Linked DNA regions of Homo sapiens. The protein of the gene in region 3 interacts with the protein of the main gene of each other region in a pairwise test. Each region holds a gene or a part of one and is shown on either strand. Other genes may lie near its edges.

Region 1 (3,500 bases), on a different chromosome or scaffold from region 3:
TGTAATCCCAGCACTTTGGGAGATTGAGGTGGATGGATCACCTGAGGTCAGGAGTTCGAGACCAGCCTGGCCAACATGGTGAAACCCTGTCTCTACTAAAAATACAAAAAAATTAGCCGGGTGTGGTGGCGGGCGCCAGTAATCCCTGCTAATCTAGAGGCTGAGACAGGAGAATCACTTGAACCCAGGCGGTGGAGGTTGCAGTGAGCGAAGATTAAGCCACTGCACTCCAGCCTGGGTGACAGAGTAAGACTCTGTCTCAAAAAAAAAAAAAAAAAAAAAAGAAAAAATATGATTTATACTCAGGCATAAGCTCAAGAGATAATACATGCAAAGTGCTTAACACAATTCAGAGCAGGTAGCAAGTGCTCAGCAAATATAGGCTATTGCTGAAGTGGCAGAGATGGCACTTGAGCTGTGGAATTGTTTTTTTAAAAATATTTTTATTTTTTACAAAAAATTAGCTGGGCGCAGTGATGGGCGCCTGTAGTCCCAGCTACTCAGGAGGCTGAGGCAGGAGAATGGCGTGAACCTGGGAGGCAGAGCTTGCGGTGAGCTGAGATTGTGCCACTGCACTCCAGCCTGGGTGACAGTGCAAGACTCCGTCTCAAAAAAAAAAAAAATAATTTATTTTTTAGAGATAGGGTCTCACTATGTTGCCCAGGCTAGACTCAAACTCCTGGGCTGAAGTGATCCGCCTGCCTCAGCCTCTTGAACAGCTGGAACTACAGGTGTGCACCACAGAGCCCCATTTGAGCTGTGGTTTTTTGTTTTGTTTTGTTTCTGAGACAGAGTCTCACTCTGTCGCCCAGGCTGGAGTGCAGTGGCACAATCTTGGCTCAGTGCAAGCTCCGCCTCCCGGGTTCCAGTGATTCTCCTGCCTCAGCCTCCTGAGTAGCTGGGACTACAGGTGCGTGCCACCACACCCAGCTAATTTTTGTATTTTTAGTAGAGACGGGGTTTCACCGTGTTGGTCAGGCTGGTCTCGAACTCCTAACCTCAGGTGATCCATCCACCTCGGCCTCCCAAAATGCTGGAATTACAGGCGTGAGCCACTGCACCCTGCTTGAGCTGTGGTTTTTAATGTAATTTCTCACCTGTTTTCTCTACTGTGACATGGACGCCTTCAAAGGCAGAAAGAGTCTTGACTCCCCTGTGTGATTCTCTGCGATTCCAGTGTCTGGCTGGGGCTAGGAACCGAGCAAACTTTGGTGAACATTTGCTGAATGAGTAAGCAAGCCCTGCCAATAACTGGATATACACAGTCACTTCTGCAAAGCTTAATGACTCGTCGTTAATGAGGTGTGCCAGTAGTAGTGTGCTGGGAAACATCTCTGTAAAAAACAAAGTCTTTAATGACTGAAAAAACCAAAGACACTTGTTTGTAGCCTTTCTTCCCTCCTTCCTTCCTTCTTTTCCCTTCTTTTCCCTTTCCTTCCCTCCTTCCTTTCTTTTCTTTTCTCTCCCTCTCCTCTCTTTTTCTCTTTCCCTTTTCTCCACCACCCAGGAGACGGAGGTTGTGGTGAGCCAAGATCCCGCCACTGCACTCCAGCCTGGACAAGAAGAGCAAAACTCCGTCTTAATATACATACATACATATATATATACGTGTGTGTGTGTGTATATATATGTATACATACATATATGTATACATGTGTATATATATACGTATACATACATATATACGCGTATATACGTATACATACATATATATGCGTATATACGTATACATACATATATACGCATATATATACGTATACATACATATATATACGTATACATACACACATATATACACATATGTATACATATATATACACATATGTATATACACACACACACACACACACACACACATATATATATATATATATATATATATATATATATATATATATATATATTAGCCAGGCGTAGTGGCACACGCCTGTAATCCCAGCTACTTGGGAGGCTGAGGCAGGAGAATCACTTGAACCCGGGAGGCGGAGGTTGCAGTGAGCCGAGATCACGCCACTGCACTCCAGCCTGGATGACAAAAGCGAGACTCCATCTCAAAAAAAGAAAAGAAAGAAAAAAGTATCAATTTACTTACTTGTCATATTGTATAATTATATCTAAATGGAAGTGTTACATAGTTATTTTAAGAAATGGAAATAATGTACAAATATAGAATCAAAAGTAAAGTCCCACTTTTCTCCCTCTTCCGCCTAAATCTCTCCCAGCATTGACAATGCATAACCATTTGCCGAGCGTTCTTCCCCGGACTGCATCCGTTTAGTCTACTGAGAGGCAGCTCAGCGTTCCCAAGGAGACAGATGTCTAGCTTTGCTCTTTCTGTCTGTGTGATGCTGGAGAATCGATATGCCCCTGGGCCTCCATCTCCATCTGTAAAACAAGGGCATCAGGCAAGATCGGCAGTTCTCATGTTACTGTGCGTAAGAGTCTCTCGAGACACTTGTGGCCAATGGGGAATCCAAGACCCTCAACCCGTGATTCTGAATCAGCAGGTCTTAGGCAACAGGAATCTGCATTTTGATGTGGCTGGTTCTCGCGGCATGCCTAGGAAACACTGAGGGAGAACATCTCTGAGGCCTTTTTCAGCTGCAATTTTCAAGAATTACCTTTTTTATTTTTATTTATTTATTTTTTTGAGACGGAGTCTCACTCTGTCACCCAGGCCGGAGTGCAGTGGTGCGTTCTCGGCTCACTGCAACCTCCGCCTCCCGGGTTCAAGCGATTCTCCTGCCTCAGCCTCCCGAGTACCTGGGACTACAGGCACCCGCCACCACGCCCGGCTAATTTCGTATTTATAGTAGAGATGGGGTTTCACCATATTAGCCAGGATGGTCTCAATCTCCTGACCTCATGATCCACCCACCTCAGCCTCCCAAAATGTTGGGATTACAGGCGTGAGCCACCGCGCTGGCCTGGATTACCTTTAAAAAAAAAAAATGTGGCCACACCTATAATCCCAGCACTTTGGGAGGCTGAGGCAGGCAGATCACTTGAGCCCAGAAGTTTGAGACTGGTCTAGGCAACATGGCAAAACCCCTTCTCTACAAAATTGACCAGGCACAGTGGTGCATGCCTGCAGACCCAGCTACCTGGGAGGCTGAGATGGGAGGATCACTTAAGCCCAGGAGGTGAAGGCTGCAGTGAGCCAAGATCATGCCACACTACTCCAGCCTGAGCAACAGAGCAAGACCCTCTCTCAAAAAAAAAAAAAAATTGCCAACCAGCTGCAGTGGCTCATGCCTGTAATCCCAGCATGTTGGAGGCTGAGGCACGTGAATCACTTGAGACTAGGAATTTGACAACAGCCTGGCCAACATGGTGAAACCCTGTCTCTACTAAAAATACAAAAATTAGCTGGTCGTGGTTGTACATGCCTGTAATCCCAGCTACTCCGGAGGCTGAGGCAGGAGAATCACTTGAACCCTGGAGGCAGAGGTTGCAGTGAGCCAACATCACACCAGCCTGGACGACACAGTGAGACTCTG
Region 2 (3,500 bases), on a different chromosome or scaffold from region 3:
GGTGTCTCCCTTGGAAGCAGAGCCCATGATCTCCCAGATCATTCCAGCTAAATTGTACCCTTCTGCTGCTCTTTCCACTTGAATGGGCAGTTTTGCTTTAACGATATAAAGAAACACATTATTTCTAAAATGCCACCAGTACCCATAACGAGGTAGCAAGACTTGGAGGTGGCCGCTGGTGCTTTCTGGTACTAATGGGCTTTTTAAAACACAACTCACAGCAAAACAGGGCTGGTCACCACCACCTGGGAGAGGCTTTATTTCTTCACCCAAGGCGGGAATCTCATGTGTCAGCCCAGGGGAGCCGTGGCTGGAGGTTTGATCCAGGACCTGGACAACTGCTCAGTGATGGCCGTGGATTGCGAAGACCGGCGCTACTGCTTCCAGATCACCACGCCCAATGGAAAATCGTATGTTTCACGCGTTTTATTTGGGAGGAGAATGAGTATAGTGGTTCCACCCGTTCCAAGGGCCTCCTAGTTCATTCCTATGTGCCAGCCCTCTGTGGGAGAGGCCCCAATCTGGGTATTGTTGACCTTTCAGGAGGATGATTTTCTGCTCTCTTTAAACAAGCCCGCATGACCCATAAGGGATCCAGCCTGCCTTATCCCATATGGAGATAAGTGAGGGTTTGTCTGTGGCTTTGGAGAAGAGATGACCTACGTGTGTGAGACAGCAACAGAAGTCGTGCTTGTTAGCATAGATTCTCAGAGAGAGAAGGCTGTGGCTACTCCTAGCCTGTTGTAAAGAAGCATTTGTGTTTGGATTGCAGCAGGGGAGAGTAACTATTTTGGTAAGGACGACCTTCCTGAGAAGGCCATTTTTCCAGCAGAAGCAGGAGTTGTGAGAAGTGTACTCCACTGCAGCAGCATCGTCGGCTGCCAGGCTGTTCCCACATGTCCTGTGTACCTGAGGGGCCCCAAAGAGGTGGTACTTTACCAATCCGCAGGCTGTGGCCATTCACAGTAGATCCCATCCCAGTGGGATCCCCTCTCAGAGTGGTGGTTTTTAAACTGCTCCAAGGAGTTCAGGGTCCCATGGAGGGGCTTCAGGGTCCCATGGAGGGGCTTCAGGGTTCACCTGCCTGGGGAGAGGAGTGGCCCTGCCCGTCATCAGAGCCGCTCTTCTCACACTGCATTCTATTAAGATTTGACCTGAACAGCAGGGGTAGGGGTGGGGACGGCATTGGGATGATGTCTCTCCTCCCAGCTTGGCAGAGCAGCTTTAGACCTCATCCTTCCTGCTTTGGTGATGGGAAATGACCTGGGAATGGAGATTCCTGGATGCTCATCATGGTCCTTTGCAGTTACCTCCTCTGGGCCTCACTTTCCTCAGATATAAAATAGGGATAAGATCTATGTTACTCCATCTGCCACAGATGAGAGGAACAAGGGAACTGGCAGATGTGGGGTCTCTTTAAAAAGTTAAAGCCTCGGCTGGGTACAGTGGCTCACGCCTATAATCCCAGCACTTTGGGAGGCCGAGGCAGGTGGATCCCCTGAGGTTGGGAGTTTGAGATCAGCATGACCAACATGGAGAAACCCCGTCTCTACTGGAAATACAAAATTGGCCGGGCACGTTAGTGGTGGCGCATGCCTGTAATCCCAGCTACTCAGGAGGCTGAGGCAGGAGAATCGCTTGAACCTGGGAGGCGGAGGTTGTGGTGAGCCGAGATCACACCATTGCACTCCAGCCTGGTGCAACAAGAGCAAAACTCCATCAAAAAAAAAAAAAAAAAAAAAAAAAAAAGAGTTAACGCCTCCACAAAGGTAGGGCAGTATTACTGTTACCTTATTCCCGGGCCTCCATACGCAGCAGACTTTTCAGTTCTGGGAAAGGAGTGAATGGGCTGCCAAGTCCTTCTTTGGGCATGGTTTGAGGAGTGGCTGGGCTTGGAGTCCTGGTCATCTTGGATCATTAGAGGAGGTCAACAGGTGGATCTCACTGTACAAACACAGATTTGGGCTAGAAGATCCGAGTCCCGCCTTCTCATTTCATAGATGAACATGCTGAGGCCCAGGGAAACGGCCATGTTTGTCCAAGATCACATAGTGAATCAGGGCAGAGCCAGACCTACAAGCCCATTTTCTTTTTTCTTTTTCTTTTTTTTTTTTTTGTTTGAGATAGGGCCTTGCCCTATCACCCAGGCTGGAGTGCAGTGGCACAGTCACCACTCACTGCAGCCTCAGCCTCCTGGGCTCGATCGATCCTCCCACTTCAGCCTCTCTAGTAGCTAGGACTACAGGCACACGCCACCACGCCCAGCTAATTTTTGTATTTTTTGTAGAGAGGGGGTTTCACCATGTTGCCCAGGCTGGTCTCGAACTCCTGGGCTCAAGCCATCCTCCTGCCTCACCTTCCCAAAATGCTGGGACTGCAGGCATGAGCCACTGCACCTGGCCCTGGAACCCCATTTTCTTTCCCTCTCATCATGCTGCCTTCATGGCACTTTTCCTCCCACACCCCAGCTAAGTTCAGTTTATGTAGAGAAATTCCCAGTCACTGAGATCAGGGAAGCACTTAATTACTTAGACACTTTTGTTTCAGGGGAATAATCCTCCAGGCTGAGAGCAGAAAGGAAAATGAAGAGGTAAAAATTTTGTTTGTCATATTTCTTTCCTAACGTGGTGGGTGACTTTGGGATTCAGTGTTCTTTTTTAATGTCCTCTACAGTGGATATGTGCAATAAACAACATCTCCAGACAGATCTACCTGACCGACAACCCTGAGGTAATTATCAGCCACCGGCATCTCAGCCCTTTTCTCAACCTGGAAGGTAAGCGTCCACCTCCTGGGACTGAGTGTGTCTTCCTGTGGATTTTTAGGCAGTCGCGATCAAGTTGAATCAGACCGCTCTGCAAGCAGTGACTCCCATTACAAGTTTTGGAAAAAAACAAGAAAGCTCATGCCCCAGGTAACTAAAGGACAAAGAAAAACTAGCTTTTGTGGAGCCAAATTATTGATTAGGAATACGAAATGAGTTGTTGCTTAATCCACACAAACCAAGGCATGTTTTTCAGCCTGTTTAACAGAAGCAGTAACGATGGCTGGGAAAGGTTAAATACCTGCCTGTGTTCACACCACATTGTGAGTGGTAGAGCCAGGATTCAAGCCTGTCTGATGTCAGCATCCCTGTCCTTTCCACTGGACCATGCTGCTGCAGTCCAAGCAAACAGGACGTGCATGGAGGGTCCTCCTAGTCAGGAGTTCTCCCCACATTTTCTATCAGTGTCAACAAAGTAAGGGAACGAAAGCAAAAATGTTTTTAAAAAATAAGGAAAAAAAAATCGCCTTTTATGTATCCCATGTTAATGTCCACGCCTTATCTGAACATACAGTGATAGTTTTATATGTACATTTATTTTGTATTTGCACATACTTTTTTTTTTTTTAACTATTTCTACATTTTTCAGAATTGTTCCTTTTAGTAACTACACCCTATTCCATCATTTATTTTTTTACTTACTTATTTTTTAATTTTTTCGAGACGGAGTCTCACT
Region 3 (3,500 bases):
AAAATCATCGTGTGAGCAAGGTTGTTTCCTTCCGGAGGCTCCAGGGGAGAATCTGTTTCTTTTGCTTTTCCAGCTTCTAGAGGCTGCCTGCCTGCCTTGGCTTATGACCCCTCCTGCCATCTTTAAAACCAGCAGCTTTGTCTGGGTGCAGTGGCTCATGCCTGTAATCCCAGCACTTTGGGAAGCTGAGGCAGGAGGATCTCTTTAGCCCAGGAGTTGGAGACCAGCCTGGGCAACAAACTGAGACTGTGTCTCTACAAAGAATAGACAAAAATTAGCCAGGCATGGTGGTGCATGCCTGTAGTCCCAGCTACCTGGGAGGCTGAGGTGGGAGGATCGCGTGAGCCTGGGGAAGTGGAGGCTGCAGTGAGCTGAGATCATGCCACTGCACTCCAGCCTGGGTGACAGAATGAGATCCTGTCTCAAAAAAAAAAAAAAAAAAAAAACACAACAAACAAACAAACAAAACCCCCAAAACCAGCTTCTTGCTTCTGTTGTCACATCTCTTACCTCTGACTTTGATCCTCCTGCTCCCTTTTATAGGACCTTTGTGATTACATTGGGACCACCTGTATAATCCAAGACAATCTCCCCATGCCAAAATTATGCATTTAATCACATCTGCAAAGTCCCTTCTACAACATATTCACAGTTTCCGGGGATTCGAATGTGGATGTTTCTGGGGGGTCGCCCACTGATAACCAGTATTATAAGTTTCTTGTAAATCCTTCCAGAGATATTTTATCTATAAATAAATAAATGCAAGTCCATAGCCTTCCCCTACCCACTTTTTATGCAAATGGCATTATTCCATATCGGTGCTCAGAGTTTTCCTCTTTTTCTTTTTTCTTTTCCGTCTTCTTTTTCTTTTCTTTTGAAAGCTACACAGAACTTATTCTATTATATGGAAATACCCTAATTTATTTCACCTTTTCCCTGTTGGAAGACTTTTAGGCTCCTTCCAATGCTTTGCTTTATAATCCTTTGTGTTATAATGCTGCAATGAATAACCTTGTTTGTTGGATGATATTCAATTTAAAATCTCATTTTTCAGGACAGGCATAGTGGTTCATGTCTGAAATCCCGGCCCTTTGGGAGGCCAAGACAGAAGGATCACTTGAGCCCAGGTGTTCAAGACCAGCCCTGGCAACATATCGAGACCTGGTCTTTTCAAAAAAATTTGAAAATTAGTGGGGTATGGCTTGGTGGCCTGCACTTATTTGGTCTCAGCTGCTCGGGAGGCTGAGGTGGGAGGATTACTTGAGCACAGGAGGTGGAGGCTGCAGTGATCCATGATCACACTCCTCACTGCACTCCAGCCTGGGCAACAGAGTGAGAACCCATCTCAAAATAAAATAAAATAAAATAAATAATAAAATAATCTTGTTTTTCAGAAATTGGGGGTGCCATTTAAGACATTTTGAAACCTCACAGAACTTTTTTGGGGAACTTGTTGCCTTGGAGATTAGCCTGCCCTGTCCTGCCCCCATGACCTGTACTTGGTCTTTCTCCCTCCTGGCTTCCTTAGTTAAGCCTTGTGTGGACTTGCGAGCCCATGTCCATCACTCTCTGCCTTCAATTCTAGGTGCTGTGGTGTGAATACGCTTGAGTGGAGGCCGCATGCTTCCCAGGAGGGTGTGTATTTTCAGCGTTGTCTCTCATGATAGAATGAAAGGCTCTGGAGGGAATCACAGGCTGCCACAAACAGGCAAGGGGAAAAATCTTCCACAGACGTGTTTCAGGGACAACAGGCTTCCCAATCCTAGCCCATGCTGGCCCATAACTGGATCAGGCTGACTCTCCTTCCCCCACACCGCTGGTGTAGACAGGGACAAGAAAGAGAAGTCAGAGACACAGAGAAGCTGTGATTTGCTTGAGGTCACCAAAGTATTTAATGGCAGAGTTCAGACCTGACCTGAGGGGCAAGAAAAGACAACCCCCTCAAATCCATGGGGAGCAGAGACTATCTGGATCAGATCTCAGATTGCCTGGGGCTTTCACGGTGCCAGGTGTGTACACTGAGCTAGGATGGGTTTCCCAGGGTGCTGTGTGGTCACATAACTCAACAATACAGACCAGAAAGCAGTGACCAGTAGGCTGAATTTGGCTAGTGGGTGTTTTCTGTTTGGCCTACACAGTGTTTACTTTAACTTGTTATTATAGGAAATTCAAACATGCAGAGAGAATTGTACCATCAACAACACACACCCATCACTCTGCTCCAACAATGATCAACTCAGGCCTATCTTGCTTCATCCTGTACCCTCCCTCGCTTGCTTCTCTTCCCACCTTCAGATATGCGGAAGCAAATCCAGAGATTTCATTCCATTGTAAATATTTCATTGTGTATCTCTACAATGTGGGAATTTGGGGAGTTTCATTTGAGACAGGGTCTCGCTTTGTTGCCCAGGCTGGAGTGCAGTGGTGCAATCGTGGCTCACTACAGCCTCGACCTCCCAGGCTCAAGTGATCCTCCCACCTCAGCCTCCCAAGTAACTGGGGTTAAAGGTGTGCACCACCACATCTGGCCAATTTTTTTATTTTTTGTAGAGATGGGGGTCCCACTATGTTGCCCAGGCTGGCCTAAAACTCCTGGGCTCAAGTGATTGTTTTACCTCAGCCTCCCAAAATGCTGGGATTATAGATGTGAGCCACTGTGCCCAGTCAGGAACTTTTACATAATCCTTTTTGACAAAAGATTTCCCCCAAGAAATTAGAAAGTTTTACAAAAAAAAAAAAAAAAAAAAATTCAGGTTTCTGTCTCATCTTAAAAATTTGGAAGTTCTGCCAATACTAAGCCCAGATGGTAATCATTGGTTAGTGCTGAGAAGATGTTGACTTTTTAGATGAGGCGTGTGACGTCTACTTTGCCACAGTCCCCACCACTCCCTACCTGGCCATCTGACTCATACACATCACCTGCCTGGCTTCTTTAGGCATTTAATTTGTGTAGGAAATTGACCTAAAGGAGATATTAGAGAAGACATTAAAAACTTGAAGAATGTGAAAATCAGCCATGAGATAGAACTGTGCTTTAATGCAGGTTATAGAACCACACCGGATATGAGGCATTTCGGAATAAACTTTGAAGATTGGAAGTACCAGTTTGTGAATTTTGCTCAGAGAGACCAAGGTGGGGGTGGGTGACAGTGGTGAAGCGTCTCCTCTGTGCCAGTCTCTTCTACCACAGGCTTTTTCTCACAAAATCATCAATCATATGCAGTAGGAGAAACACCTTCCTATTTTACAGATGAGGAAACTGAGGCAAAGAGAGGTGAAATAGGCTTCCCAAGGCCACTCAGGTCAGGAGCAGCAGAGTTAGGATTCAGACCTGGAGTCCGCCTGACTCCAAAACGATGCATGCCTCACCATGGCCCATAGCTCCTTTAAAGAGGCGCGGAAGAGAGAATTTGACAAAGTGCTTGCCCACGGGGCCTGGGATGGGTGGGGAAACTACGCTGGGGCTCGGGGCTGCGGAGGGCATCTGGGAAGAGGCTCTG

The links.
Region 1: the proteins of LGALS9B (region 3) and NLRP12 interact in a two-hybrid assay, tested with the Homo sapiens proteins (one large-scale study listed by IntAct).
Region 2: the proteins of LGALS9B (region 3) and APPL2 interact in a two-hybrid assay, tested with the Homo sapiens proteins (one large-scale study listed by IntAct).

What each region holds. Positions count from the first base shown.
Region 1 is NC_000019.10:53,817,815-53,821,314, reverse strand, and holds part of NLRP12 (NACHT, LRR and PYD domains-containing protein 12), read left to right. Parts: intron 1-2,222; exon of another isoform or gene 2,223-2,431; intron 2,432-3,500. UniProt on the Homo sapiens protein: Plays an essential role as an potent mitigator of inflammation. Primarily expressed in dendritic cells and macrophages, inhibits both canonical and non-canonical NF-kappa-B and ERK activation pathways.
Region 2 is NC_000012.12:105,194,675-105,198,174, reverse strand, and holds part of APPL2 (DCC-interacting protein 13-beta), read left to right. Parts: intron 1-221; coding exon 222-410; intron 411-2,547; coding exon 2,548-2,590; intron 2,591-2,648; coding exon of another isoform or gene 2,649-2,673; coding exon 2,674-2,730; intron 2,731-2,825; coding exon 2,826-2,914; intron 2,915-3,500. UniProt on the Homo sapiens protein: Multifunctional adapter protein that binds to various membrane receptors, nuclear factors and signaling proteins to regulate many processes, such as cell proliferation, immune response, endosomal trafficking and cell metabolism.
Region 3 is NC_000017.11:20,461,040-20,464,539, reverse strand, and holds part of LGALS9B (galectin-9B), read left to right. Parts: intron 1-3,500.